Linked DNA regions of Homo sapiens. The protein of the gene in region 1 purifies or fractionates together with the protein of each later gene. This does not show direct contact. Each region holds a gene or a part of one and is shown in the gene's direction. Other genes may lie near its edges. The genes, in order: FAM167A, CDC42BPA, NDE1, UTRN, CCDC122, CDC42BPG and METTL13.

Region 1 (4,345 bases):
GGACCAAGCCCCCATTTCTTCAGTGTGGCCGGAAGTTCCCTCCAGGGCATCCTGATCCAAAGGTGGAAGCTGGCAGTAGATGCCCAAGGGCTCCCTCGCAGGGCTTGTCCCTTGGGCATCCCTAGAGGGACAGGCCCAGGTCAGACCCCATTTTCCAGGTCCAGTGGCAGGTATGGAAAGAGCCTAGGCAGTGACTTGTGCACTGGCTACAGTTCCAGGCCTTCTCGAAGGCTGGGCAGTGTTTCCTCATTCCAGGAAGCCAGCGGAGCCTCTGCGAGCTGGCTGGGCACAGCAGCCCCTAGGTCAGCAGGCTCATGCTTAGGGTGGTGGCCACCCAGGAAGGTTCTGGATGAGGGTCTTTGCCTTAGGGACCTGGCCCCCACTGTCCACCATCAAGTTGAAAGTGACACTACCTCCCTAGTCTTGTGATCAGCTCCACGCACTTCGCCCTGGAAGTCCCATGCCAGGCGTGAACTGACCTAAGTCCCTCCAGTCACAAAGGCACTTCCCAAATTTGGTTGTGTGGCTGCTGCTATTTTGTTTATTTGTTTGATAGCAGCCACTGAAAACTTGGAGGAAGGTGAAGCCAGCCTCATTATCAAGTTTGAATGAAAGCAGCCTCAGAGCAAATTCTGCCAGACGTACACATTTTTGGACAAATATTTACCTGAAACAAGTCCAGCGGAGTCCATACAGCCTGTCCTGTGGGCTCGGTGAAGCCCAGCAATCTGCTCTCTGCTGCCCTGACCACACCTCCCTGGAGCTCTCATGGATTCTTTTACCTGCTCTTTCCTGAGTCAAGAGTGTCTCTGAATTCATTTAGCCAACCCACACATCTTGAATACCTCTGTCTTTACCAATGAGAACGCATTTCTAATATTTACTTTGCTAATCATCAAATGCCCAATGCTGACCAGAGATAAAGACGCTGAAGTGCCTGTCCCTGCTGCCTCTGGAGCAGATGCTTTCTGCTTCGAGGCAGTGGCTGCGAGTGGGGTAGGGGTGGGCGTTGCTGATTTGAATACATCTAGGTTGTAGCTGGCATAATGAAACCACACAGAACAGCCCACCATCTCTGCAAAGGAGTTTAGGATCCAAATGCACCACCCTACCAAGGAAGCAGAAGGTGAAGGCCGTGCCCTCAGGGAGCGTGCAGTCTGGCGAGGTTGCTGATGCAGTAGAGTCCTGAGCTCACAGTAAAATGCTGTTCTGCACGCTTCAGTTAACTTTCGCAGTGCAGGAGCCATTTCCCAATTCGATGGACCAAGGAGAGTGACAGCCAAGCACAGTCAAGAGCAGGAGGTGACAGTCGTATTAGAGGTGTAACTAAAAATTCACGTAAACTTGATCTCATTTGGTCCTTCCAAGACTGTGAGGTACGATCCATTACAATCCTGTTTCATGGATGTGGAACCTAGGCCTAGGAGGGTTGAATCTGTTGATCAAGGTCATAGAACTAGTAAGTGGCAGGCTGGCTGTCAACCAACCCACGTCCCCCGACACCCGGCTCTGCCCTGTTCTAACTTGCTCCATCCCTTTCTCCTGCTCCTGATTCCTTTCCTCTGCGAGGTGTGAACCCGGGAGGCTTCAGCAGCCAAGTACCTCCAGCGCAAGCTGACACGGCAGGGAAGCAAAGTCACACATCCCATTTTCTGCCCTGCCTGCGGGCACTCAGGCCATATGTCCCTGCCAAACCCCAGTGCAGGCACAGCGCTGCACCTGCAGCCACTTACAGGCTGCACTGGGCAGTCCAAGCCAGGCTGAGGCCACACTGGGACCCCACTGCGTCCAAACACCAGGAAACCCTAAGGACCCTTCTAGCCCCTGAGAGGTCAGGACCCCCAGCCCGAACGTGGAGGTGCCCAGTTGGCATAAGCACAGGGAACACCGTGAAAGGCCTTACGAAGCCTTTTAGAAACTCTGGGCTTTGGAACTTGTGCTGCAGAGTAAAATAGAAATCAGATCATCTGGACAAATCCCCCCTTGAGCTGGCGTTTGTTGATTCTGCCTATTTTCAACTTGGAGCCAATTATCCTGTGGATTCAAATAGTCCTAGATCTGCCTTGTTTGGAGGCTGAGGCCAATGCCAGCTGGTTAGGAGCCACTCTGGTGGGCTGAAGCCACAGGGGAGGGCACACATCCCCCGTGTCCTTAGCTGTGCCCTGGTGTCTGAGTTTCAGCCAGCTGGGAAGTGTTTCCTGTTTGTATAGCCAGGGTACCGGCCTGCGCTGCATTCTGCTTTCATCTCTGCAGATTGCTTTAAAGGCCACTCTGTGTCTACTTTCTGCCCTCTAATCCCCACTGCCACCATGGCCTTTGGCCAGAAAAGCCCTGGGTCTCATGTGGCGGTTGGCGGGGCGGCAGCAGGCTGCCTTAGCCCGTCTGGGCATCCCTGCCTTGTCGAGCGTTTCCCGGGAGGAAAACCACATCCTTCTCTTTTTTTCCCATGGCTACTTTCCCCCTCCCCATCTCCTCCAAACTGTCAGATTCTCAGGCACCTCTTCCTGCCTGCCAGGGCCGCCCTTTCCCAGAGCCCCGCAGCCTTGGAAGGGACACACCAGCGACTGGGCGTCCCAAGAGCCCCTCTCCCTGCAGTGGCCCTGGGCTTTCTCCCCGCCTTGCAGGGAGCCCATAAATTAGATCTGTGGCTCCCAGGAGCCAGGGCCTCTTTCTGACCAACAGGGAAGCAGTATTTCTTGGCAATTTTCTCAGCAGCCTCTTTCACCGGGCTAAATGAAAAGGAAGGTTTCCGCGCTCCCAGCCTTCCTGCAGGAGGACTGTGCGTCAGCTTGAAGCAGCCTGAGCCCATCAATTATTCAGCATGGACCCAGCACTTTGAATTTGCAAAGGTCTTAAGTATTTTTATAGATTCTTTTCTCATAATGTCCCAGCGAGACAAGCAAGGTTTCCCTGTTTCCTAGACAATAGATGCAGGGTTCAACTCGGAGTCAGAAGACTTGGGTGCAAGCGCAGCCAGCGCCACTCATGGAGCTGTGGGACCTGGGGCAGTTCTTTCGATGGCTCTGGTGTGCAGTTCTCTGTGGTATAATTCTTAGGAAGGCCTCCCTAGCCCAGGTCATTGTGTGTGTGGGGAAAAAAATTTGCAAATGCAGTGTGATTAAAAAATGCATGTGGTTGCTCTTGTTGCACCAGGTGTGGAAACGGAAGCTTCTATCCTGAGCTGAAGTGCAACCATTAGCATAGGACACTGCAAACCGGGCTCTGCTGGGAGACAGTCCCCAGGGAAACGTGGGCGAGTCGGCGCCTCTACTCCCTGGCCCCGTGGGGGTGGCTCCATGACATGGTGGTCCCACTACCTGCTGCTGTGGGCTGACTCTGCATGTGTCAGGGTGGAAGAGGGCACGGAGGTCATCACACCCAAACCAATGGCTTAGGGTGGGATGGGACCCCAGTAGCTGACTCCCAGGTCGGGAACTCTTTTCTCTTCCACACCAGGCTGGCTCTGTCCAAAATGTTTCTCCCGCTCCCATCGGCAATGCTGGGACCCCAGGCAGGAGGCACCGAGGGCTGCCTAAAGCCGGAGTGTTAGGGCAATCTACGGGTGCAGCCCACTAGGGCGCCTGCCCCTCCCAGAGCCCTGTAGTGGGTTTCATGCCATGTACCCATCCTCTCACACTGGTGGCCCCAGCATCACAGCTGTCCCTGGGACTGGCCCAGGAGCCACCTCCATCAACCAAAACAAGCAGACAAATGAAATGAGTCCCTGGCCTGGTGCGGTGGCTCACGCCTGTAATCGCAGCACTTTGGGAGGCCGAGGCAGGCAGATCACCTGATGTCAGGAGTTCAAGACCAGCCTGGCCAATATGGTGAAACCCCGTCTCTACTAAAAATACAAAAATTAGCCAGGTGTGGTGGTGGGTGTGGTGGTGGGTGCCTGTAATCCCAGCTACTCAGGAGGCTGAGGCAGGAGAATCACTTGAACCTTGGGAAGCAGAGTTTGCAGTAAGCCGAGGTCGTGCCGCTGCATTCCAGCCTGGGTGAGAAGAGCAAAACTCTGTCTCAAAAAAAGAAAAGAAATGAAATGAATCCCTGTTCCAGTTGAATTCCAAAGAGTCGTGTGACTTGTCCAGCGTCACAGGTTGTTAATGGCAGAACTTCCCTTAGGCTGAGGTCCCCTCACTGCCCAGCCCTGCCCAAGGACTAAGACCCCAGCCCCGGAAAGAGGCCCTCCTGCCACAGCAGCTGTACTCACAGCACCCACGTGCTTGGCACTGCAGACCGAGGCGCTCGGTCTCTTCTTCCTCTTCTGCCCAGAACAATTTTACAGAAAAACAAAGCATTGCCTTGGGAATATTTCAGTGTTATTTGCCCCTGAGGTTTCTAG
Region 2 (4,345 bases), on another chromosome or scaffold:
CACCTCTTGATGAGAAGAATGGAATTCCTTAGGAGGACTTGTTGGTAGGCGTCTTTGGAGGCCCTTGCCACGATGCAATCTTGAGTGGGTAAATTAAGACAATAGAGGTTAAAAAAAAAAACTACTGCCCAATTGTTATGCCTATCTCCCTATATTTGTCTATGAATCTTGTATCTAAGGAAGGTCAGGCAAAGATTATACTTAGTCTCTTAGTTCCCAGACTGACAACTATTTATTTTCCTCCCAGCCACCAAGGGAGCCTACAGAGGCCCACTTATCTATAACTGATTTTCATAGTGTGAGTTTATTGTCACTGCTACTTAATAAGGAATTCTTTACTTATGATAAGGAATTCATATAGGTAAAATTTAAAACTGCTCTGATAGTGTTGTTTGTATAATGATAAACCTTCATTTAAATATTAATTTAAATGGTCAAATCTTAATGATAATGCGAGTTATTGTTGTGAAGTAACAGAGAATATATTTCTGAGCACTTCTGACCTTAAAACAAGTCACAAGTCAGTATGGTGTGGCGCTTAAGAGCATGGGCACAAGATCCCAGACTTGTAGTTGTATGTCCTTGGAGAAATGATTTAATTTCTTTGCATCACCATTTTTTTCATATATAAAATAAGGATATAATGACAGTACATCCTAAATCATGACGATGTTAACAGAGTTAAATGAGTTAATACTTGTAAAGTGCTTAGATCTACCTGGTGCTCAGTATTTACTCAATAAATGTCAGTTGTTGTTGTTGTTGTTATATATTTAATGCCTCTTTAGTGATAGTGTTCTGGCACTTTTACAGAAGGAAAATGAAAATGATACTAACATTTCAAATGGTGTCTGCCACCTTTGCTTTGTCATGTATTCTAGTGCTAAAGGTAGTTATTCTGATTAGGAATAGCTGAACTCCAGTAATGGTATCATTTAATGAATGCTTATTTTATTGGTGAGTGCTAAGCAAACTAACATAATCATGAAACTAGCATAAAGGGTGTCTGTTTTCTAATATCATGAATATTGATTAAATTGTTCTAGGTCACAGCTTCCCAGCTCTCAGCATCTAATAACAAATGTTCAATCCTGATGCTAGCAGACACTGAGAATGAGAAGAATAAGTGGGTGGGAGTGCTGAGTGAATTGCACAAGATTTTGAAGAAAAACAAATTCAGAGACCGCTCAGTCTATGTTCCCAAAGAGGCTTATGACAGCACTCTACCCCTCATTAAAACAACCCAGGCAGCCGCAATCATAGGTATGAATTTATAACATTTATCATATTATTATCATTGTTTACTAATCTACCTTGAGAACAGGGATTGGCTTTCATCTAGGAATCCCCAGTGTCCAACATACTGTGCATCATATCATAAATGCTCAGTACATGTTTACTGAATGAATGAGACCTATATCAGATCTTTGTTTTTCAGTAAACAGGAGTATAAATACACTTTCAAAGTGCCTTTTTTTTCCTGAAAAAACAACAGTGCTAAGCATTAGCCTACTAATCTATTTTCTGCTTGTGTGATTTAGAACAAGTTAGTTTCTTAGAGTTTAATATATAAAATACAGATGGTAATTACCTTGCTGAGGTTATTGGGAAGTTTAAATAAGATGGAATACATAACACAGAGTGCCCTGCATAAGAAAGAAATCCCCTTAACAAATGGCAGTTTCTGTGTCTGGAGGTTTAAATTTTTGCTGTATTCCTGTGTATGCATCTAACTCTTTTGTTACTTTCCATAAATACTGAAAAGTTCAATGAGTATGGTTCAAATGCCATTCACAATTTTTACCTCCCAAAACAATAAGTGTAGAACAACTTAGGTTTTTCATTTTGTTTCATCATTTATTAAACATTTACTTCTTTTTGTAAGTATTGATATGGATTATTCTTTAATAATTGTTCTATTTTAGAAGACATGAGAGATTTACCAGTATAATCTGAAAGGAAATAGTGTAAACTGTTATTGTAATTCATTTTATTTCCATTTTTTGCACCAAATGTTCTTATCATCTGGTTTATTAGCATTACATGGTTTTTTTCCTAATAAAAATCTTTCACATTCATGTCTTACATAGATCATGAAAGAATTGCTTTGGGAAACGAAGAAGGGTTATTTGTTGTACATGTCACCAAAGATGGTAAGAGAAAACTTTTTTTTTTTGGAGTAATTTTAAATCGTGTTAAAAAAATTTAAACTGTAGATTCTAAATTCTACAAAGAGCAGGATTTGCTCTTATTTATCCTGCGACTAAAATTTTCCAGACCTAATTTGACGTTTATAAATTAAAAGATTATTTTTAAATTTCTATAATCCCCCTGAGGTTTAAAACTTCAAATATGTATTGTCTTTCTTGTATCATTTTATTTAACAGTTCTGTACGAACTCAGATTGCATTTCTTTTTTTTTTTTTGGAGACAGAGTTTCACTCTTGCTGCCCAGGCTGGAGTGCAGTGGCACGAACTCGGCTCATTGCAGCCTCCGCCTCCTGGGTTCAAGAGATTCTCCTGCCTCAGCCTCCCAGTAGCTGGGATTACAGGCATGCACCACCACGCCCGGCTAATTTTGTATTTTTAGTAGAGATGAGGTTTCTCCATGTTGGCCAGGTTGGTCTCGAACTCCCAACCTCAGGTGATCCACCCGCCTTGGCCTCCCAAAGTGCTGAGATTATAAGCATGAGCCACTGCGCCCAGCCCAGATTGCATTTCTAAAGATGGAACATGAAAAAAAATATATACAACTTGATTTTCACATTGTTCTATTAGTACCAGAAGAGGCAACAGCTATTAAAATGTGTTTGTTTGGAGGTTTTTCTTCTAGGGAAAAACTAAATGCTGGGTGAAATAAAGAGAAACCAATATAACTTGGTATTCATAAATACAGTATTCTAAGTTTTATCTTTATGTCAACTTAGATCATGGGAAAACAATGCATTGTTAGCCATATAAAAACTTCTGAAAAATAAGTTCTCTGTTTTTAAAAATGGGAATCCTATGGTGACGTTCCCTAGAATTTAGTGCCAGTAGAAAAGTTTCCTTGAAGATTTGGCATACTTTTACACAAGAATCCTTTGGGGTTTGCCTTGGCTGCCAGAAATCTCAGGACTCAAATTTAATACGTACTATAGGTGAGTTAAATTATCTTATGATGGGTTGGATAATCTTTTTTTCCTGTGACTTCTGATGTCTTATTCTTCCGTATGTGCATCTGTAAGTTGACTTACATCCTTTTGAGTATAATTGGGATATGATTAATCAATAAAACTATATTTTGATTTATTATTCTTTCTGTGTTTAGAAATTATTAGAGTTGGTGACAATAAGAAGATTCATCAGATTGAACTCATTCCAAATGATCAGCTTGTTGCTGTGATCTCAGGACGAAATCGTCATGTACGACTTTTTCCTATGTCAGCATTGGATGGGCGAGAGACCGATTTTTACAAGCTGTCAGAAACTAAAGGGTGTCAAACCGTAACTTCTGGAAAGGTGCGCCATGGAGCTCTCACATGCCTGTGTGTGGCTATGAAAAGGCAGGTCCTCTGTTATGAACTATTTCAGAGCAAGACCCGTCACAGAAAATTTAAAGAAATTCAAGTCCCATATAATGTCCAGTGGATGGCAATCTTCAGTGAACAACTCTGTGTGGGATTCCAGTCAGGATTTCTAAGATACCCCTTGAATGGAGAAGGAAATCCATACAGTATGCTCCATTCAAATGACCATACACTATCATTTATTGCACATCAACCAATGGATGCTATCTGCGCAGTTGAGATCTCCAGTAAAGAATATCTGCTGTGTTTTAACAGCATTGGGATATACACTGACTGCCAGGGCCGAAGATCTAGACAACAGGAATTGATGTGGCCAGCAAATCCTTCCTCTTGTTGTAAGATTCTCTTTCTTACGGCTGTCTTATCTTTATATCTCTTCTTCCTTTTCCCTTCTACTTCGTCTCCCAAATGTTGTCATTGTTGATAACAGTTTTTTAAAAAAGTCATTCTTAATGCTTTTCCTCAGTATTGATTATGTTGTTGATGTAAAAACCATATGTAGTTAGGCCTGGGCAAACAGGGCCAGCATTAGCATGCACGTAATTTAAACAAAACATCTTTCTGTGGAATATTTCACTAAGATGGATTTTTTACCCCACATCATATTTTGAAATAACCCAGAATTGTTATCTCATGGTCCCCCAAAATATGGTGCTTGTAAGCATCAGTGTTTCACAGAACTTATTCTGGAGAAGTAGTTACTAAGTGAGTTATTTAATCAGGTATGTAAAGGTATAATGTAACATCTATAAGAGGTGTTTTTTCAGTTTTCCACT
Region 3 (4,345 bases), on another chromosome or scaffold:
TTGATATTTTTAAAATATTCCTTGAATTTGGCCAGGTACAATGGCTAACGCCTGTAATCCCAGCACTTTGAGAGGCCGAGGCAGGCAGATCACCTCCAGTCAGGAGATCGAGACCAGCCTGGCCAACATGGTGAAACCCCGTCACTACTAAAAATACAAAAATTAGCTGGGTGTGGTGCCGCATGCCTGTAGTCCCAGCTACTCGGGAGACTGAGGCAGGAGAATCGCTTGAACCTGGAAAGCAGAGGTTGCAGTGAGACGAGATTGCAGCACTGCATTGCAGCCTGGGTGATAGAGCGAGACTCTGTCTTCAAAAATATTACTACGTGATGATTAACAATTTTGCTGTAGGGCAGAAAATACGCAAGAGGAACTCCGAGAATTCCAGGAGGGAAGCCGAGAATATGAAGCTGAATTGGAGACGCAGCTGCAACAAATTGAAACCAGGAACAGAGACCTCCTGTCCGAAAATAACCGCCTTCGCATGGAGCTGGAAACCATCAAGGTGAGGGGCTGAGAGGAAGTGTGCTCAGGTGTAGACAGGCGTCCAACACAGGCATGGCATGCTTGGCTGGAAGAAGGAACCCTGCAATGAGGGACTCCAGACCCCAGGCCCATGCTCATCTCTGGAAGGGCCTGTGCGGCAGACGTGATCTTTGAACTCTTTGTGCCTCTAGTGGGTGGTGCTTTTTGTTTTGTTTTTTTTTTTTTTTTGAGATGGAGTTTCACTCTTGTTGCCCAGGCTGGAGGGCAGTGGCGCGATCTTGGCTCACTGCAACCTCCACCTCCCAGGTTCAAGTAATTCTCCTGCCTCAGCCTCCTGAGTAGCTGGGATTATAGGCGCCTGCTACCACGCCTGGCTAATTTTTTTTGTATTTGTAGTAGAGACGGGGTTTTATGTTGGCCAGGCTGGTCTCGAACTCCTGACCTCGGGATCCATGATGGGTGGAGCTTTGAGAAGCAAGTCACACACATGTTCCCGTGGACTTTCTTGGTTGTGTACACTGATTTTATAGGGCACATGGCAGGGAGACTTTTTTTTTTTTTTGAAACAGGGTCTTGCTCTGTTGCCCAGACTGGAGTACAGTGGCTGGATTACAGCTCACTGCACCCTGGACGTCTCAGGTTTAAGCAGTCCTCTCACCTGGGCCGGGCGAGGTGGTGCATACCTGTAATCCCAGCACTTTGGGAGGCTGAGGTGGGCAGATCACGAGGTCAAGAGATTGAGACCATCCTGGCCAACATGATGAAACCCTGTCTCTACTAAAATTACAAATATTAGCTGGGCGTGGTGGTACACGCCTATAGTCCCAGCTTACTTGGGAGGCTGAGGCAGGAGAATCACTTGATGGTTGGAGGCTGTAGTGAGCTGAGATTGTGCCACTGCACTCCAGCCTGGCAACAGAGCGAGACTCCGTCTCAAAAAAAACCAAAGTCCTTCCACCTGAACCTCGGGAGTAGCTGAGACTACAGGCATGCGGCACCATGCCTGGTTAGTTTTTGTATTTTTTATAGAGACAGGGTTTCGCTGTGTTGCCCAGGCTGGTCTTGAACTCCTGGACGCGAGCAGTCCTCCTGCCTTGGCCTCCCAAATTGCTGGGATTATAGGCATGAGCCACCACCTGGCCAGGGAGACATTTTTAGGGTATGGAGGTGTTGCTAGAGTAATATCATCAGGTCCAATATTGTAGCCCTTAGCTACATTTGGCTGTTGAAATTTAATGAATTAAAATAAAAACTTAATTCCTCAGTCACAGTAGCCACATTTCAAGTGCTTAGGAGCCACGTGTGGCCAGTGAGTTTCCTTAGTGGACAGAGGGGCTGCAGACCATTTCCTTCATTACCAAAAGGTGTGTTGCACTCTGCCAGTTCAGAGCAGGTTTCTCGACCTGGCTGCTGTTGACATTGGAGCCCGGATCATCCTCCGTTGGGAGGGACTGAGGTTTGCTTTGTGGGTTTTTTGTTTGTTTGTTTTGTATTTTTGAGATGGAGTCTTGCTCTGTTGCCCAGGCTGGAGTGCAGTAGCGCGATCTCGGCTCACTGCAAGCTCCGCCTCCCAGGTTCACACCATTCTCCTGCCTCAGCCTCCCGAGTAGCTAGGACTACAGGCGCCTGCCACCACGCCTGGCTAAATTTTTTGTATTTTTAGTAGAAACGGGGTTTCACCGTGTTAGCTAGGATGGTCTTGATCTCCTGACCTCAGGATCCGCCTGCCTCAGCCTCCCAAAGTGCTGGGAATACAGGCGTGAGCCACTGTGCCCAGCCTGTTTTTTTTTTGAGATGGAGTCTTGCTCTGTTGCCCAGGCTGGAGTGCAGTGGCACAATCTCACCTCACTGCAACCTCCGCCTCCCAGGTTCAAGTGATTGTCCCGCCTCAGCCTCTTGAGTAGCTGGGATTACAGGCACCCTCCACCACGCCTGGCTAATTTTTTTTTTTTTTTTTTTTGAGACGCAGTCTCACTCTGTTGCCAGGCTGGAGTGCAGTGGCGTAATCCCGGCTCACTGCAACCTCCACCTCCTGGGTTCAAGTGATTCTCCTGCCTCAGCCTCCTGAGTAGCTGAGATTACAGGCACACACCGCCATGCCTGGCTAATTTTTGTATTTTTAGTAGAGATGGGGTTTCACCATGTTTTCCAGGATGGTCTTGATCTCTTGACAGTGTGATCTACCCGCCTTAGCCTCCCAAAGTGCTGGGATTACAGGTGTGAGCCACCACGCCCGGCTAATTTTTGTATTTTTAGCAAGGACGAGGTTTCACCATGTTGGCCAGGCTGGTCTCGAACTCCTGAGCTCAGGTGATCCGCCCGCCTCAGCCTCCCAAAGTGCTGGGATTACAAGCATGAGTCACCCCGCCTGACCACACTGTGGGATGTTTGGCAGCATCCCTGGCCTCCACCCTCTAGATGCCAGTAGCATTCCCCGCACCTCCAAGGTGGTGAAAACCAAAAGCACCTCTAGACATAGCCAGGTATCTGGAGACCCAGTGCTCTGCAAGGTAAAAACCATCCCTTCTGTACATGCTGTAGGGCTCAGCAAGGGATCACTAAGTCAACACCGTGCCCCAGAGACTGGCTCTCAGCCTTAGCTGCCAGCCAGCATCACTAGGCCAGCTTCATAAACATCCGACAGGCCTGAACCCTCTCTCCCCATCCCCATCTCCCCGCCTTGCTCTGAGATTCCATTTCTCAGTAAGTCTGGGTGGGGCCCTGGCATGTCTGTGTGGTTTTCTTTTTCTCATTAAACTCCCAATGTACATTTTGATGAGCTGCTTCATGGAAGAGTCAAAACTGTGTGTGCCCAGGGCTAGGTATGATGGACGGTGAAAGGGGAAGTGCTGGTTGCCTTCTTTGGGAAGACAAACCTAATGCCATGAAGCAGTTGGGGACGTGAAGCTCAGTCACAGAACTCTGATGTGGGGGCCTTTCAAGAGAAAAAGGACTGGCTGGGTGCGGTGGCTCATGCCTGTTATCCCAGCACTTCAGGAGGCCGAGGTGGGCAGATCACCTGAGGTTGGGAGTTTGAGACCAGCCTCACCAACATGACAAAACCCTGTCTCTACTAAAACTACAAAATTAGCTGGGTGTTGTTGTATGTGCCTGTAATCCCAGCTACTTGGGAGGCTGAGGCAGGAGAATCACTTGAACCCGGGAGGCGGAGGTTGCAGTGAGCCGAGATTGCACCATTGCACTCTAGCTTGGGCAACAAGAGCGAAACTCTGTCTCAAAAAAAAAAAAAAAGAAAGAAAAAGAAAGGACTGCATGGGTTGAGGGAGGCTGTGTGGAGGGTGTTTGTAGGTGTATGTGTTGCTGACACTTGGTGCTTGGGGAGATGGGGCTGAAGGAGAGTTGATCTGTACCCATCACAGACGTGGACAAGAATGGGTGTCGGGTGGACCTTGGCAAGCCCAGCTTTACTAATGTATAGGAAAGGGTGTGGGACCAACAAATGGATTGGGGGTTTGGGGCAGGGCGGAGGAGAGGTCCCAGACACGTTGAAGGTGGTCATTGAAGCTGAAGCTTTCTGTTGGAGACCACAGAGTGCAGCTGGCCGTCTGCAGATCCATCTGCCCCATAGGTGTTGTTTGATCGCCTTCAGGGGTTTTTGTTCAGCATTTCCCCATGAACGTTTTCCAGCATATAAGGCTGAAAGAATTTCCAGTGAATACCTGTGTATCCACCACCACCTAGGCTCTACCAATAATATTTCCCCTACTTACTTGCCTTTTATTATATATATTCCCCCATCCATCAAAATTTGTAAAGCTTCCTGTAAAAAGATGGATTTCTGGCCAGGCATGGTGGTTCATACTTGTAATCCCAGCCCTTTGAGAGGCTGAGGAGGGAG
Region 4 (4,345 bases), on another chromosome or scaffold:
GTGGCTATCACTATTTAAATAGCCTTCTGTTATTCTTCTTTCTCCCCATTTTCCTCTGTACTCTGATCACCTTTTCTGCTGTATCTTTGCAACCTGTAAGGGATTTTCATTATCAAGAAGAGAAAAATTTGAAAAATCACCTTGAGGAGAGTGGCAAGTGAAACATTATAGTGAAGAAGTGTTACTGATAATGGGCAAATGGAATAAAGTAGTGTGTAAACAGTTGACTTTTCTCTTTTATGGGTGAATAAAGGCTTTGGGTAGCATAGAAGTGGAGATCTTGGCTAAGACCAATAGTGAAGAAAAGCATTAGACTTACTGCTCCAAAGTGATACACTGTAGTTCTTTCCAGGAAAGAGAATTTTTCCCTGGGCAAACTTAATTTTCCATGATAAACTTTTATAGACATTCTTCTGAACAAAGTTTTTGATTCTTGAATATAATAAAATACACTTAAGAATTTAGCAAATCCTTTATAGTTATGTACTTGAATGAAAGAATGTAATCATATAATAATCCATAAATTTTTAGCAGTAGTAGAGCCTATAAAAAATGAAAAAAGTTTTTTAGACTCTCATAAAATCTGTCAGATTGATGATCCAATCCTTTATATCCAACTCTCTCTCTCTCTCTTTTTTTTTTTTTTTTTTTTGAGATGGAGTCTCACCCACTCGGTCGTCAAGGCTGGAGTGCAGTGGCAGCGATCTTGGCCCACTGCAACCTTTACCTCCTGAGTTCAATCAATTCCCCTGCCTCAGCCTCCTGAGTAGCTGGGATTACAGGTGTTTGCCACCATGCCTGGCTAATTTTTATATTTTTAGTAGAGACAGGGTTTCGCCATGTTGGCCAGGCTGGTCTCAAACTCTTGACCTCAAGTGTTAGCCAGGTTGGTCTTGAACTCTGGACCTCAAGTGATCTGCCTGCCTCAGCCTCCCAAAGAGCTGGGATTACAGGCATGAGCCACCATGCTGGGCCCAACTCTCTTTTTGTCATCTCCGCTTATATAACTCAGAGGCATTTCAAGCTCTGCAAATCCAAATCACATTGATGATTCCTTTCTCCCAGCCTGCTATCCTCAGTGTTGCCCAGCTCAATGACTCACACTTCACCTAATTGCCTAAGCCAAAATTGGGGAGTCATTTTGCACATTTTGCACATTGGATATGAATCTCTCATATCCAATCAATTCCCAAATCCTATTGACTTTCTTTGATATCTAAATATCCCACATATTCACCCATTTCTTTCTATCTACTCTTGTTTAGACCACACTTGTTTCCTGCATATAATATTACAATAGAAAGAATAGCACAATAAACACCCAGATGTCCTTTTTATTTTATTTTATTTTATTATTTAAAATTTTTATTTACATGGAGTAGAGACAAGGTCTCACCATGTTGCCTAGGCTGATCTCAAACTTCTGGGCTCAAGTAATCCTCTCGCTTAAGCTTCCCAAAGTACTGGGATTACAGGTGTGAGCCACCTCGCCTAGACCCAGATGCCCTTTAACAAGTTTTCCCACTTACTTTATTTTTTTTGAGATGGAATTTTGCCCTTGTCACCCAGGCTGGAGAGTAATAGCACAATTTCGGCTCACTGTAACCACCGCCTCCTGGATTCAAGTGATTCTCCTGCCTCAGCCTCCCAAGTAGCTGGGATTACAGGCACCTGCCACCACACCCAGCTAATTTTTGTATTTTTTTTTAAGTAGAGATGGGGTTTCACCATGTTGGCCAGGCTGGTCTCGAACTCCTGAACTCAGGTGATGCACCTGCCTTGGCTTCCCAAAGTGCTGGGATTACAGGCGTGAGCCACCTTGCCCGGCCTAGTTTTCCCACTTATTTTACAATACTTACTGCATTTTTCTGTCTGTCTGTGTGTATGCATATATACATCTACATACATATATCAACCTAAATATACCTATATCAGTATAGACAGATATATGCTATTCTGTTTGAACTTAAGTTGAAGATACCATCACACTTCATTGCTAAATATTTCACCACATGTCTCTTACAATCAAAGACATTCTCCTGCAACAATACCATAATTAATGTTAAAGAAATTTAACATTGATACAATAATATTGTCTAATACATAGTCCAAATTCAGATTTTTCAAATGATCCTCAAATGTTTTATTTTAAAATTCTGAATTCAATCAAAGATTACATTTCATTGTCATGTCTATTTAGTCTCCTTTAATTCACAAAGCTCCCCCTCTCCCAGGTAATTTTGGTTTTCAAGACGCTGACAGTTTTGAAGAAACCAGGCCATTTCTTTTGAAAACTAGCCACAGTCTAGATTTGTCTGCTCATGAGAAGATTCACGTTCAACATCTTGGCAAGGATATTGTGTAGATGATGTGGTGATTTTCCATTCAATTGCATGATGCCCCATGATTGGTTATGTGAATTTTGATCACTTGGTTAAGATTAGGAATTTTTCCCCAACATATTACTATGAAAAAATTCTCAGACATACAGAAGAGTTGCAAGAAATTTTCATTCAGCATTCATATACCCATGAGCTAGGTTCCTTAATTTGCATTTTGCTATATTCTGCCATAGTCTTCACTGGTTCCCCACATATTACTGTGGTCTACCTACAAGCCACAATCGTCTTTTTTTTTTTTTTTTTTTTTTTTTTTTTGAGATGGAGTCTCACTCTCGTTGCCCAGGGTGGAGTGCAGTGGCGTGATCTCAGCTCACTGCAACTTCCACCTCCCAGGTTCAAGCAATTCTCCTGCATTAGCCTCCTGAGTAGCTGGGATTACAGGTGCACACCACCATGCCTGGCTAATTTTTTTTTTTTTTTTGTATTTTTAGTAGAGACAGGGTTTCACTGTGCTGGCCAGGCTGGTCTCGAACTCCTGACCTCGTGATCCACCTGCCTCGGCCTCCCAAAGTGCTGGGATTACAGGCATGAGCCACCGTGCCCGTCCCTTGACGATCTTTTAAAAAGGCCAATTTGACCATGTTGGTTCCCTCCTTCGAACCATCTACTGGCTCCCCATTGCTCTTCAGATAAAGACACAAACCCTTGACCTGTTCTCCATGGTCCTATCCCTGGTCCTGCCCAGCTTCTTCACCTGGTTCAACAGGTACACTTGTCTCTTGGCTGTCTTCTTTCCAGAAACACTGGCTTGTGCTCCATTCTTTGACTGCTCCATGATTCTTTCTGCCACTTCACATAGGAAGCTCTTACCTTTTCTCTTTCTGTTTCCCTTTTTGGCTAATTAAATTCTTGTCATCTTTAAAGGCTTGGCTCAAATGTCTCTTCAAGAAAGCCTTCTCTAATTGCCCAGGGCAGGTCAGACTCCTCTGCTGTGTGCTCTTAATACTCTGTGCTTCTCCTTTGTATGATTTGTAGTCTGTCAGTATTGTAATGAAATAATTCATTATGTAATTAATTGCTTAGTGTGCATAAGCGCCGTAATGGCAGAGGCTATGTCTCTTGTTCATAGTCATAACACCATTGCCTGGCTTGGTGCTTTACACGTGGTAGGCACTCAATAAATATTTGGTGAATGAATAGTTACTACGAATAACTATATAAAATATATAAATACATTTTTTCAAGTCAGTACTTTCCCTTTTCCTTTTAGGTATTGATGTCAAGCTGAACCATCGTAGGAAGTTGAAAGCCTTAGAAAGAGGACTTGGTAAAGTTTTTGGATTATCTTGAAACTCTGGCAAGATGGCCAAGTATGGAGAACATGAAGCCAGTCCTGACAATGGGCAGAACGAATTCAGTGATATCATTAAGTCCAGATCTGGTAGGTAAAGGAAGCTCAAGAAAGCTATGGATTTTTATGTATTTAGAAAACCTATGTTTCTTGGATTGATTTGCATTGTTCTTGCAAGAACTTCTTGGAGGTGAAGTTCTTTTAAGAAACTGAATTCTGACAAATGACTATAATTTTGTAAAAGGTATATGTAAAAGGTATAATATCTCTGAGTGTCCTATCCTTTCTCAACCCAATTTTGTGCTTAGTGAAACTGCTGCTTGTAGCTAAAGGTTGTTCATTTGGAAGACTACTCCATTAAAATAAAATACGACCGAACATTTCTCTTTCTATTTTCTGGAAATTGAAGGGATTATATGCTTAATGTAGGAAGTGCCACAGTTTCTGGCAGGAAAGATCTTTCACAGTTTGATTTCATTACCATATATCCTCACCCCCATCCCTGTTCATAGCCATTGATAGGCCAACAGGTGTCCTACCTTGAAATATCTTATGAGCCTTCTCAAGGTAAAATTTTCACCTAGGTAATCTAATAAACCAGACTCAGACAGATTCATGGTTTTCACACGAACAGTTAAATTGGGGTCCTCAG
Region 5 (4,345 bases), on another chromosome or scaffold:
CTTAGTAAAACTATTTTTTCTATTACTCCTTTTTTGCAAGTACATACATTAAATGATAAATTTATTGTGAAGTTAATAAAATGCCCATAGCTGTCCTATTACCTTCAGAAACTATTTTCATAATTGAAAAAAACTTGGAATAAGTACATGTGTTATATAACAACGACCCTAGATGCTCAAATGCATAAAGGAAACATCCACAAATCCCCTGTAGATTTATAAAACTACATGGTCAAATAAAATCACAGTGAACAATTAATCCATTTGTTGTAGAAAATGTAATTCACAAAAATGTTAAAGACTTAGCTTCTATGCCAATGGATCCAGACCAATTCAAATCAATTTAGTACACTTAATGGTGTTATGCAAGCAATATAAATTAATAACTGAACCTTAAGCATCTTACTATTTCTCTTACTGTTCTTTGAAGACGATAGAAGACACAAACTTAAAATATTGATCATTTCTTGCTAGAGAATTAAAAAGTGTCTTTTACACTGTTGTTCGGCAGTTGCCACCATAACTACCACTTTCCTTTTTGTCTTATTTTCATTTGGTTTTTAGTTCTGTGTCAAATGTAAGGTTTCTTTGAGTAACAGTTCTTTATTTTTGTATACGTATAGAAGTAATATTCTAATGCTATTTATCAAAACTAAATTTTGATTTGGCTAGTTTTCTTAAATTATAGAAACACTGAAAAATTGGATTTATATTGATCATCCTTTTTTGACTTCTATATTTCAAATGTTGTCAACATACAGGAAGACATTACAAACTTAAAGGATAAAATTATAACTGTAAAAGAATCTATCATTGAAAAAACTTGTTTTCTTGAGGAAGAAAAAAAGACACATGAAAAATTAAGAAAAGAAATAGAGGTAAGTCTTAATTATCTAGATTTCAATGTTTTATGGGACCATTTTTAAAACTTAACACTATATTCATATTTCCATAGTTTACTCTCAATACTCAAAACAGTTGAAGAACAAGAAAGAACTATAAAATTTAGTAAATACAAATCATTAATAGATAACTAGAGATAACCCCCTCATTCAAAGATGTTCAAATATGTGAATGTGTTCAAACAATGCAAGCATTCACTCCTATTTAAATCTGGGCGAGGGTTCTTCCAGGTTTTTCTCATTCCACTAAGAACATGATACCCAATTAATGGCTAGAAAGCAGCTATGTAGTCAAAGAGGATGCCCATTCTTAGATATCAAAGACTCCTCAAAATAGAATAAAACACAATGGAAAGCATCGTCTTTCCAAACCTCTCTGACTTCATATTCGCAATTATCAAGAGTCAAGTTAAAAAAACAAACTGAAAATATGCAAAATTGAAAGTCAGAGTAAATTCATAATGTGTTGTGGTGCTGCCTGTGGACTTCTATTGTCATTATTGTTTGGATGAATGGTGAACAGAAATGTAAAATAATATGCTATTAAGGGCAAATAATTTTTGCCTGAATACATTAATTTGGAAAATAAAAATATGCATGTTTCAACTTGTTTTTGACTAATTTGACACAATACAAAGCATCTGAGGAAATTAAAGATAAAAATCCTCATCTTTACATATTCGCTATTAAAAAATATCACGATTTTACCTTTTAGTTTACTAGGAATCTAAATAACGATTCTTTTTGCCCTTGTAGACATTAAGGTTCATTATAAAACAATAAATAGTAAGACAGTGTATCAGTGGTAAAAGAGTAGAAAAAAATATTATTATTATTATTTTTTCTTTATTTTTGAGACGGAGTCTTGCTCTGTCACCCAGACTGGAGTACAGTGGTGCGATCTCAGCTCACTGCCGCCTCGGCCTCCCGGGTTCCAGCGATTTTCCCATCTCAGCCTCCCAGATAACTGGGATTACAGGCACGTACCACAATGCCCAGCTAATTTTTGTATTTTTAGTAGAGATGGGGTTTCACCATGTTGGCCAGGCTGGTCTCAAACTCCTGACCTCAGGTGATCCGCCTGCCTCGGCCTCCCAAAGTGCTGGGATTACAGGCGTGAGCCACCACACCCGGCCAGAAAAAAATTATTAATGAAAAAAAGAATCCAGAAATTATGCATCCTTGAGTGGTAAAAACAAAATAGATTACCTCTATGGAAAAATAAAGAAAAATGTTGAAATAAAACTGGATTCCTACCTCATAATACACACGTGCACACACACACACACACACACACACACACACACTTCTAAGTATTGAATACAACATAGGATAAAAACTTAAAAATTTGTGTCAGAAAAGCATTTATTTTAAAAGAGAAAAACACTCCATAAATTCTGTGGTTAAATATCTTTAGTTTTGACTATGCCATAAATTTCCAGATTATGGGAATATACCATCACAAGAGAAAGAACAAGACTCCATTCTAGATTATTATAACACATGTATGTGATAAGAAAGAGATAAGAAAATGTCAAATCAGTGAAACATTGGGCAAATGGTATAAAAAGACCATTTTTCTGAACCATGAATATCAGAAATAAAGAAAAATATGACCATCCTCATTAGCAATAAGAGACTGATAATTAAAACCACAGCAAAGTTCCATGTTTAGCCCATCTGATTATCGGTATTACAGTTGGGAGATGTTGAGCGTGGGAATTTTAATACAGTATTCTTGTGAATGTAAATTGCTAAAAGCACTTTGGAAAGAAATGTGAAATTACCTTTTAATTTTTTTACAGTAACATATTTTATTGAGGTATAATTGTCATAAGAGTAAGTACACAAATTATAAATGGATGGCTTGATTTATTTAGACTAACATGTACATATATTTATGTTGGCATTACCTAGATCAAGATATAGAACTTTCCCAGCATGTCCAGAAAGTTCTCTTCTACCCTTTTTATCAAATAGCCACTATTCTGATTTTTATAAACAGCTTTACTAAGATAAAATTCACATACCATACAGTTCACCGATTTTTGTCAGATATCCTGCAACAAAGTTTTATACATGAAAACAAATTATTGAGAGATTTTTTCTTTTCTTTTTTTTTTTTTTGAGACAGAGTCTCGCCCCATCGCCCAGGCTAGAGTGCAGTAGTGCAATCTCGGCTCACTGCAAGCTCTGCCTCCCAGGTTCACGCCATTCTCCTGCCTCAGCCTCCGGAGTAGCTGGGACTACAGGCGCCTGCCACCACACCCAGCTAATTTTTTGCATTTTTAGTAGAGACGGGGTTTCACCATGTTAGCCAGGATGGTCTTGATCTCCTGACCTCATGATCCACCCGCCTCGGCCTCCCAAAGTGTTGGGATTACAGGCGTGAGCCACCGCGCCCAGCCTTAATTTAACTTTTAAGTTCAGGGGTATGTATGCAGGTTTGTTATATAGGTAAATTTCTGTCATAGTTTGTTGTACAGATTATTTCAATAGCCAGGTATTAAGCCTAGTACCCATTAGTTATTTTTCCTGATCCTTTCCCTCCTCTCACCCTCCAGTGTGTGTTGTTTCCCTCTATGTGTCCATAAGTTCTCATCATTTAGCTCCCACTTATAAGTGAGAACATCCAGTATTTGGTTTTCTGTTTCTGCATTAATTCACTTAGGATAGTGGCCTCCAGCTCCATTCATGTTCCTGCAAAGGACATAATCTCATTCTTTTTATGGCTGCATAGTATTTCATGGTGTATATGTACCATATTTTCTTTATCCAGACTACCACTGATGGGCATTTAGGTTGATTCCATGTCTTTGCTATTGTGAATATTGCTGCAATGCACTTACACGTGTATGTGTCTTTATGATAGAATGATTTATATTCCTTTGGGTATATAATCAGTAATGGGATTGCTGGGTTGAATGGGATTCTGTTTTTAAGTCTGAGGAATTGCCACACTGTCTTCCACAATGGTTGAACTAATTTACACTCCCACCAACAGTGTATAATAAGTGTTCTTTTTCTCTGCAACCTTGTCAGCATGTTTTTTGTTTGTTTGTTTGTTTTGTTTTATTTTTTTACTTTTTGATACTAGTGATGATGGTATCTCCTTGTGGTTTTGATTTACATTTCCCTAATGATTTATGATGCTGAACTTTTTTTTGGTAGTTTAAAAGGAATAGCATCAAATCTATACATTGCTTTGGATAGTATGGCCATTTTAATGATACTGATTCTTCCTATCCATGAGCATGGAATGTTTTTCCATTTGTTTATGTCATCTCTAATTTATTTGAGCAGTATTTTATAGTTCTACTTGTAGAGATCTTTTACCTTCCTGGTTGGCTGTGTTCTTAGGGGTGTGTGTGTGTGTGTGTGTGTGTGTGTGTGGCAACTGTGAATGGGATTTGACTCAGTTTGATTGGTGTTATATAGGAGTG
Region 6 (4,345 bases), on another chromosome or scaffold:
CGGACAAGGCAATGGGGAGCCAGTTGAGGGGTGGGCAAGCTGCAGCCAGTGAGCAGGGTGGACATGGACGGGGCTCGGGGTGCTGGGGTACCTACAGGGAGACGGCAGTCCCAGGACTGCTGGGGCCTGGGGCTGACCTTTCCTCTGGCCGGCCCCAGCTAGAAGCAGAGCTGGCCCAGGAGCAGGAGAGCAAGCAGCGGCTGGAGGGTGAGCGGCGGGAGACGGAGAGCAACTGGGAGGCCCAGCTCGCCGACATCCTCAGCTGGTGGGTGCCAGGGGTGGGTCGGGGTGGGGAACGCAGGCGAGACTGAGGGCCCAGCCCATGACCCTGAGCCCCTTCCCATTCAGGGTGAATGATGAGAAGGTCTCAAGAGGCTACCTGCAGGCCCTGGCCACCAAGATGGCAGAGGAGCTGGAGTCCTTGAGGAACGTAGGCACCCAGACGCTCCCTGCCCGGCCACTGGTGAGCCCCAGAGATGCCCCTGGGGGCTGGCTTGGGCAAGTCACTGACCTTCCGTGAGCTCAGCATCCCTGCTACTGAAGGTCACTACTGGAGGTGGGGACACCAAGCTCATGAGAGATAGTGATTTCCCTGAGCTCACAGTGGGTCATTGGCTGAGCTGGAGCTTTGAGCCTGGCTGGGTGGCATGGGTAGCAGGATGCTCTGGTAGCAGGGGGTCCCTGAGGCAGCCAGGCCTAGAAAGCATCTTATACGGGTGCTCCGTGGCCACCAGGACCACCAGTGGAAGGCGCGGCGACTGCAGAAGATGGAGGCCTCGGCCAGGCTGGAGCTGCAGTCAGCGCTGGAGGCCGAGATCCGCGCCAAGCAGGGCCTGCAGGAGCGGCTGACACAGGTGCAGGAGGCCCAGCTGCAGGCTGAGCGGTGAGGCTAGGGGCAGGCACTGGGGGCCAGGGCCCGCACAGAGGCCAGTGGCGAGCCCTTGCCATTCTCCCCAGCCGTCTGCAGGAGGCCGAGAAGCAGAGCCAGGCCCTGCAACAGGAGCTCGCCATGCTGCGGGAGGAGCTGCGGGCCCGAGGGCCAGTGGGTGAGTGGCTGCCAACTGCTTGCCCCGGAGCCAGGCTCCCCCGCGGCCTCCCACTTGCCAAGGGGGCTCCACGATGGCCTGGCAGGGTGGTGGAGACAGGAGTCTGTTCCTGGACTCTGCCGCTTACTCCATCATCTGTGACCAGCACTTCTGGAGTGCCTGCTGTGCCCAGCCCTGCCCCACCCTGTGGTCATTTCCCATTTTACTGAGGTGGGAACTGAGGCCCCTCCTGGACCCTAGTTCCTCAGGCCAGGGACCCCAGGCCAGTGACCCACCCTTTCTTTGCAGACACCAAGCCCTCAAACTCCCTGATTCCCTTCCTGTCCTTCCGGAGCTCAGAGGTAAGGACCAGGCCAAGGGGCTTGTTGGGGAGAAGTTCTGGGAGAGGCACAGGGACCTTGACTTTGCTCCTCTCTCTCCCACCCCCAGAAGGATTCTGCCAAGGACCCTGGCATCTCAGGAGAGGCCACAAGGCATGGAGGAGAGCCAGATCTGAGGCCGGAGGGCCGACGCAGCCTGCGCATGGGGGTGAGGACAGGTGGGTCCATCGTAGGGGGCCTGGGCCCCGCCCTTGCCCGTCTCACCTGCTCCCCCGCCCTCCTGCAGGCTGTGTTCCCCAGAGCACCCACTGCCAACACAGCCTCTACAGAAGGTCTTCCTGCTAAGGTCAGTGCCCAGAGGGGCAAGCAGGGTGGGGGCACCAAGCAGTTCTGCCAGGCTGAATGGGCACTGTGGGGACACTCCACGTGCATCGTGGCTAGCAGGCACAATTGGGGTGGAGGTGGTGGCGATGAGCTTGCCTGCCGCCATAGATTGGCTGGGACTCGGAGGTCACTGTTGCCTGGCTCAGCCCCTTGTCTTTCCTGACCCCTCAGGGATGGGGCATGGGGCCCTGGGAGGCCTTGGGTAATGGCTGTCCCCCTCCCCAGCCCGGCTCACACACGCTGCGCCCCCGGAGCTTCCCATCCCCGACCAAGTGTCTCCGCTGCACCTCGCTGATGCTGGGCCTGGGCCGCCAGGGCCTGGGTTGTGATGGTGAGAGTCCCCACCCACTATGCTCCAGCCACGGTCCCAGGTGTGTGGCCCTGGCATACCCAGGCTGTTTCTCCCATCCCAGGGTCACTGGCACCTGCTGGTCAAATTTCCTCCTGCTCAGCTTTGTTCCTTTTCTCACTTGATGAGGAATTGGGGACAGTTCGGGTGCCACCGTGGCTTCAGGGAAGCTGGCTCTGGACATGCCCCCGTCCTGGTTTGGGGCTGTCCCCTCCCAGCCTCACCTCATCCACCTTCTCCACTTTCCCCACAGCCTGCGGCTACTTTTGTCACACAACCTGTGCCCCACAGGCCCCACCCTGCCCCGTGCCCCCTGACCTCCTCCGCACAGCCCTGGGAGTACACCCCGAAACAGGCACAGGCACTGCCTATGAGGGCTTTCTGTCGGTGAGTGGGGGCCGAGGGAGGGGAAGATGGGCATGGGGGGCTGAGGGTCCCTGCAGCCCTCCCATGCTTGCCTTTCCGCCAGGTGCCGCGGCCCTCAGGTGTCCGGCGGGGCTGGCAGCGCGTGTTTGCTGCCCTGAGTGACTCACGCCTGCTGCTGTTTGACGCCCCTGACCTGAGGCTCAGCCCGCCCAGTGGGGCCCTCCTGCAGGTCCTAGATCTGAGGTAGGTGCCGGGCAGTGGCATGGGGCAAGGGACTAGTGGTAAGGGGGGCAGTCAGGGACAGGGAGATTTCTGACCTGTTCTGTGAACCTCCCAGGGACCCCCAGTTCTCGGCTACCCCTGTCCTGGCCTCTGATGTTATCCATGCCCAATCCAGGGACCTGCCACGCATCTTTAGGGTGAGTGCCTGGGATGAGATGGAGCAGCCACCATCCACCTCCCCATGCTGTCCCAGCTCTGGCCACTGTCCCCCCACTTCATACTGCCCTCTTGGGCCAGCCCACAACCACAGCACGCTTTCCACGTGAGCACCTGGCCCGGTCTCACCTCGTTTAGGATCTGCTGTGGCTTCCCATCGTCTGCGGGGCTCGGGGTGCTCCTGACCTAGCCCTTGAGGCCCCAAGGCTCTGACCCTGCAGGCCTCCCAGCCCTCTCCCTTGGCACCTGTCTCTGCTCTGGTCACACCTTGCTCTCTCCAGTTCTGAAGGCGCCCTGTGCCTGTGTGCACCACATTCTCAGTCCTTCACATCTGTCTTTGCACGAAATTGCCGGCCCTGCACTGGAGCCCAGCCCCTCACCTACCTTGACTACTCCTGGTTAGTTACTCGTCCCTCAGGCTTCAGCAGAAATGTCTGGTCTCCTGGGAAGTCATCCTTCACTTCCCGGCCCCGGTTTGGGTCCCTCTGTGTTCCCACTAGGCCCGTCCTTGCCCCATTATGGCGCTGGTCGCATGGCTCTGGAGTTGTCTGTTTGCCTGTCTGGCCTACTCCCTGCTGCTGACAGTGCACGCTAGGCCCCCGGGGCACAGCGGCTGCTGGAGGCAGGAAGGGAGGGAGGACAGATGGCTCTGGTCCACGGCCCTCCAGCTGGGGTCCTTGCCCACAGGTGACAACCTCCCAGCTGGCAGTGCCGCCCACCACGTGCACTGTGCTGCTGCTGGCAGAGAGCGAGGGGGAGCGGGAACGCTGGCTGCAGGTGCTGGGTGAGCTGCAGCGGCTGCTGCTGGACGCGCGGCCAAGACCCCGGCCCGTGTACACACTCAAGGAGGCTTACGACAACGGGCTGCCGCTGCTGCCTCACACGCTCTGCGCTGCCATCCTCGGTGAGCTGGTGGAGGGGACTGGAGGAAGCAGTTCAGGCCTGCGGGAGTGCTGGTGTCTAGGAATAGTCCCAAGGGCCACTGCTACTGCCCATTCCCTGCAGCCACGAGACACAGACTGCCTTGCACCACGTATGTGCTCCAGCCTCCTGTGTGCATGGCTGGGCCCCCAGGTAGGGGGCCTGGCTTATCCCCACTCCATTTCGCTGTGCCTCAGTTTCTGCTTTTTCCAAAAGAATCTCAAGCAAGTGGAAGGAACAAAGGCTTTTTTTTTTTCTTTTTCTTTTTTTGAGACAGAGTCTCGCTCGGTCGCCCAGGCTGGAGCTCAGCAGTGCAATCTCAGCTCACTGCAACCTCCGCCTCCCAGATTCAAGCGATTCTCCTGTCTCAGCCTCCAGAGTAGCTGGGATTGCAGGCATGCACCACCTCGCCTGGCTATTTTTTGTATTTTTAGTAGAGACGGGGTTTCAGCATGTTGGCCAGGCTGGTCTCGAACTCCTGACCTCAGGTGATCCACCCACCTTGGCCTCCCAAAGTGCTG
Region 7 (4,345 bases), on another chromosome or scaffold:
TGTGCAGCCAGCTGCGCCGCAAGGCCAGGCTGGGGAGTGTGTCTCTGGACTTGTGCGATGGGGACACGGGGGAGCCACGCTACACCCTCCACGTGGTGGACAGCCCCACTGTGAAACCATCGCGGGACAATCATTTTGCGATTTTCATCAGTGAGTTGGGATTGCTCCCTCTCTTCCCTGGAGGGGCTGGCTTACAGGGGCTGGGGCTTGGGCTGGGGCTGGGGCTGAGGCTGGGCTGGGGCTTTGGTGGGATTCTGGACTGTTTTTTGTCTTGCAGGGGTTTGTACTTCCAGAGGATTAGACTACCCAAGGCATGATGAAAGGAGAGTAATAGCTCTCTAGCAACCTACTTGGAGTTGAGACCTATTCCTTTTCATCTGCCATTGCAAAGGCTTGATGAAGTGTGAGAATGGGGTTGGTAGGGAAGAGAGAGAATAGAGATAAATTTAGGAGGTCACATATGATATAGAGATGCTAGTTACTTTGTAGCATGGAGTAATGGAAGTAATGCTGGACTAGCAAGTCTAAGACATAGGTTCTAGTCCCAGCTGTAGCCTGTGAGCTGCAGGACCTGGGGAAGTTGCTGTGCTTCTCTGCAAAATTTGGAGAGGCAGCATAGGGTAGCAGCTAAAAAAGTGAGCTCTGGAACCAGACTGTTTGGGTTTCAGTTTTGGCTCAGTCATTTCCTGATGGTGTGACATTAGACAGGTTACTTTTCTTTCTCTGCCTTGATGGGATTGTAACTCTGGTGTAGTTGTGAGAAGTATAAAAGCTCTTAGAAATGGTACCTGGCCTTGGAAGTGCTGTGTAAATGTTAGCCATTATTACTGAAAGCAGTAAGTTATATCAGATTTATCTTAATAAGGATAAAAAAGATAGTAGGAGGAAGTGCTTTCAAAAGTGGAACATTGTAGACAAATGCAAAGTGTTTATGGTCTTGGTGTTACGGTAATTTGTTTCCTGGTGACTGAGCTAGTTTTTCAAGTATTCTATAATTCTGTCTGTCCATGTGTGGAAATAAATAGTGCAGTGAATACAAGCGTGGGTAGAGTCTGGGGCTAGACTGCCTGGGTTTGAGTCCCAGCTTCACCATTTACTTATTGTGCGAAGTTGGGCAAATAGTGTAACTTCTGTTTCTCAGTTTCCTCATATGTAAAAATGGGAATAATACTACTACCTGCATCTTGGACTGTTGGAGGATTCCATTAATATATATTTGTCAACAGCTTGGAGTCATGCCTGGCATGGCTTATTTGTGTTGGCATTACTGCTGTTTTTCTTGTGGTAGGTGTCTGCCTCCTTCCCCTACGGACATGCCCACACTTCTTCTCCACCCTTGGTCCTGCCTTATGTCTGATGGGCTGCTTTGCCCTAGATGTTGTGAACTAGAGAATTGTTAGCTCCTCAGTGGGTCACAGTTGGGGAAGATGCTGGTCTTGGACAGGGACTGGCTCCCTGCCGTTTGGGCCATATTGGTTGTGGGCTTGATCACTTTCCAGGACTCCCTGTAACCAAGTTCTTTTTTCTAGTCCCTCAGGGCCGGGAGACCGAGTGGCTCTTTGGCATGGATGAGGGCCGGAAACAGCTGGCGGCCAGTGCTGGCTTCAGGAGGTTGATTACAGTGGCCCTTCACCGAGGTCAGCAGTATGAAAGCATGGACCACATCCAAGCTGAGCTGTCGGCTAGAGTCATGGAGCTGGCCCCAGCTGGGATGCCCACCCAGCAGCAGGTAACAAAGCTTTCGTACGGCTTTCATGGGTCTCTGAAGTCATGTTAGCAGCCAGGGAGGCAGAGGGAGCCTTGGCAGGAGCTAGGACTAGAGTCTGTGACTCTTCATCTAATCCTGGAGGGGTATCAGCAGCTAAGGGTTAAATGGCAGGGAAACTGTCCTTTGCCCCAGGCAATGAGAGGAAAGTGAGCACAGTAGCGTCTGTGTCTGGGGGAGCCTCTCAGAGTCCATAGACATGGCAGGATGGAAATGCTCTACTCATTGCGGGCTTCAGTTCTTCCTAATTTGAGTTGCTCTGACTGTGGATTTCTCCTTCCACACTGGACTTTCTTGGTCATTTTGCTTCTTAGAACTATCATTATCTGAGGGTATAAATGGAAGAGGGCCAAAACAGCTCAGCACAGTTATCCAGGTATTCACATTGCTGGTCAGGTGTTTTACTGGGAAGGAAACCGAAGGTTTTTGCCTAAGTGGTGATATGGTATTATCAGTTAACACCAACTGTCTTGTGCTATCCTGGTCACCATGGGTAACGAACAAGTGATTTTACTAAAAGAACTTCATGATGAGGAGTTGATCCTTTTTTTTCTTTTTTGAGATAGGGTCTTGCTCTGTTGCCCAGGCTGGACTGGAGTTCAGTGGTGTGATCACGGCTCACTGCAGCCTCAGCCTCAACCTCCTGGGTTCAAACCATCCTCCCACCTCAGCCTTTGGTAGTAGCTGGGACTATAGGTGCAAGCCACCATACCTGGCTAGTTTTTTTTTTACATTTTTTGTAGAGACAGGGTCTCCCTATGTTGCCCAAGCTTTGATCCTTCTTGATAGGTGGGAAAGCAAAGGTATCTAGAGGCTTGGTGCAAATAGTAACAGATCTGAAAAAAAAGAACCCAGGCTCCTGGGTTCCTGGCCTGTGGTTTTGCCCACTAGGCTGACTCGTGTTTACAGATGAATGTAAGTTTGATTCTTCCTGGCCAACTTTGGGGTTGATGACCCCTATTTCAAGGAAGCCCAGATCCTCTGAGGAGCTTCATTTGTGGCCTCTCACCAGTGCCTGAGTCTGCAGGGTCAGGAGATATTGGTGATTATTAACTAGTCTTATAGGTCTTTAAAAAAAGAAATAAAGATAGGGGGAAGGAGTGGGAAAGTTTAGGGGGAAAGTATATTTTTCTCCTAAGGTTCAGAAAAGTGGGGGAAAAATAGATGAGAATAATCAGGGGAAAGGAATATCTCTCTAGATTTGGAGTGGTTGTTTCTCCCATGGATTTTGTTATCTTTATTCTTGTGTAGATTCCTTCTCATAATCACAGCCCCTTCCTGAGGGTTCCCTCTAGCTTTTGTTATCCTGGACTATTGAGAGTTCTTTTAGGGGTTACTGATGAGAAAAACCCCTAAAAGAACTTGGGGAGAATCAGCTGCATCTCACTAGTTGTTTGGGAGATCTTTATGTGTCCAGTTGATTTTCAAAAGATGAATTAAACCTTTGAGATCAGTTCAAAGGCTCCAGAAAAGTACTTTAATAGAATGGCAAATCTGTGGAGTAGTTGTTGTCTAGAACCGTGGTATGGGGATATATACACACAAAAGGGAAGGGGTTATAATTTCTCTTATTTCTTAAATGAGCTGCTGTTTTGACCACATCTCTGGTTGTACCTTCAGGTCCCCTTTCTGTCTGTGGGTGGGGACATTGGGGTCCGGACCGTTCAGCACCAAGACTGCAGCCCCTTGAGCGGTGACTATGTCATTGAGGATGTGCAAGGGGATGACAAGCGATACTTCCGTCGACTGATCTTCCTCAGCAACAGGAATGTGGTGCAGTCCGAAGCCAGGTTGCTGAAGGATGTGTCTCACAAAGGTGAGGTGTCATAGGCACAGTGGTGGGACCCAAGTGGCCGTGGCATGGACTAGATTTCTTGGGAGCTTGGCCGAGATGTAGGATGGACCTGGGTGTCTGTAGGTTCTTAACCATCTGGACTCTTAGGGTGTGAATAGCTATAAGCAGAGTACATTCTGTTCTTGAGCAGAGCCTGGCTCTGAAGTGATAGGGGACGTGAGTAGTGAAACCAAATACAGTGATAATCACATTAATGTCTTCGGTTTAAAGGCATCTGTTTTGCAGGTGCTCCATATACATCTGTGTATTGTTTCAATAGGCCTCTGTGAGGTGAGCCAGAACTATGGAAGTTGCAGGTGAGCCCTGCCCTCCATAGTGTGACTCACCTGTTTCAGAGGGTTTTGGATTGGCGGGTGACTTAGAGGCCTTCTAGTATACCACTGTTCAGTAAAACTGCCTGTGATGAAGGAGATGTTTAGTTCCTGAGTTTCTAATGTGGTCGCGACTAGCCATATGTAGTGCTGAGCGTTTGGAATGTGGCTAGTGTAACTGAGGAACTGAATTTTAATTTTCTTTAATTCTAATTAATTTACATTTATATTTCAACAGCCATAGGGGGCTAGTGGCTAGTATTGGACAGTGTAGATCTAAACCATCTCTTCTAGGATCCCTTTAAGTGGTCTCCCAGCTGTCACTCAGAAACTCCCCCGATGGGGAATCAATAGTTTGTTTTACCTGTGTTAGTTTGTATTTTAAAAGTGATACTTGTTCATTGAAATCACTTC

What was found.
Region 2: the proteins of FAM167A (region 1) and CDC42BPA purify together in Homo sapiens (co-immunoprecipitation; 3 studies listed by BioGRID and IntAct, with this or other methods). This does not show direct contact.
Region 3: the proteins of FAM167A (region 1) and NDE1 purify together in Homo sapiens (affinity purification with mass spectrometry; 2 studies listed by BioGRID and IntAct, with this or other methods). This does not show direct contact.
Region 4: the proteins of FAM167A (region 1) and UTRN purify together in Homo sapiens (co-immunoprecipitation; 3 studies listed by BioGRID and IntAct, with this or other methods). This does not show direct contact.
Region 5: the proteins of FAM167A (region 1) and CCDC122 purify together in Homo sapiens (affinity purification with mass spectrometry; 2 studies listed by BioGRID and IntAct, with this or other methods). This does not show direct contact.
Region 6: the proteins of FAM167A (region 1) and CDC42BPG purify together in Homo sapiens (co-immunoprecipitation; 3 studies listed by BioGRID and IntAct, with this or other methods). This does not show direct contact.
Region 7: the proteins of FAM167A (region 1) and METTL13 purify together in Homo sapiens (co-immunoprecipitation; 2 studies listed by BioGRID and IntAct, with this or other methods). This does not show direct contact.

The regions. Positions count from the first base shown.
Region 1 is NC_000008.11:11,459,409-11,463,753, reverse strand, and holds part of FAM167A (protein FAM167A), read left to right. Parts: intron 1-4,345.
Region 2 is NC_000001.11:227,028,216-227,032,560, reverse strand, and holds part of CDC42BPA (serine/threonine-protein kinase MRCK alpha), read left to right. Parts: intron 1-1,046; coding exon 1,047-1,263; intron 1,264-2,090; coding exon 2,091-2,153; intron 2,154-3,310; coding exon 3,311-3,904; intron 3,905-4,345. UniProt on the Homo sapiens protein: Serine/threonine-protein kinase which is an important downstream effector of CDC42 and plays a role in the regulation of cytoskeleton reorganization and cell migration. Regulates actin cytoskeletal reorganization via phosphorylation of PPP1R12C and MYL9/MLC2.
Region 3 is NC_000016.10:15,666,935-15,671,279, forward strand, and holds part of NDE1 (nuclear distribution protein nudE homolog 1), read left to right. Parts: intron 1-351; coding exon 352-505; intron 506-4,345. UniProt on the Homo sapiens protein: Required for centrosome duplication and formation and function of the mitotic spindle. Essential for the development of the cerebral cortex.
Region 4 is NC_000006.12:144,288,125-144,292,469, forward strand, and holds part of UTRN (utrophin), read left to right. Parts: intron 1-3,612; 5' UTR 3,613-3,704; coding exon 3,705-3,783; intron 3,784-4,345.
Region 5 is NC_000013.11:43,855,314-43,859,658, reverse strand, and holds part of CCDC122 (coiled-coil domain-containing protein 122), read left to right. Parts: intron 1-761; coding exon 762-878; coding exon of another isoform or gene 879-926; exon of another isoform or gene 927-1,508; intron 1,509-4,345.
Region 6 is NC_000011.10:64,830,967-64,835,311, reverse strand, and holds part of CDC42BPG (serine/threonine-protein kinase MRCK gamma), read left to right. Parts: intron 1-158; coding exon 159-265; intron 266-348; coding exon 349-463; intron 464-734; coding exon 735-883; intron 884-957; coding exon 958-1,046; intron 1,047-1,334; coding exon 1,335-1,387; intron 1,388-1,475; coding exon 1,476-1,574; intron 1,575-1,652; coding exon 1,653-1,712; intron 1,713-1,921; coding exon of another isoform or gene 1,922-1,975; coding exon 1,976-2,081; intron 2,082-2,352; coding exon 2,353-2,486; intron 2,487-2,568; coding exon 2,569-2,708; intron 2,709-2,802; coding exon 2,803-2,884; intron 2,885-3,184; exon of another isoform or gene 3,185-3,301; intron 3,302-3,590; coding exon 3,591-3,807; intron 3,808-4,345. UniProt on the Homo sapiens protein: May act as a downstream effector of CDC42 in cytoskeletal reorganization. Contributes to the actomyosin contractility required for cell invasion, through the regulation of MYPT1 and thus MLC2 phosphorylation.
Region 7 is NC_000001.11:171,784,350-171,788,694, forward strand, and holds part of METTL13 (eEF1A lysine and N-terminal methyltransferase), read left to right. Parts: coding exon 1-150; intron 151-1,529; coding exon 1,530-1,729; intron 1,730-3,385; coding exon 3,386-3,581; intron 3,582-4,345. UniProt on the Homo sapiens protein: Dual methyltransferase that catalyzes methylation of elongation factor 1-alpha (EEF1A1 and EEF1A2) at two different positions, and is therefore involved in the regulation of mRNA translation.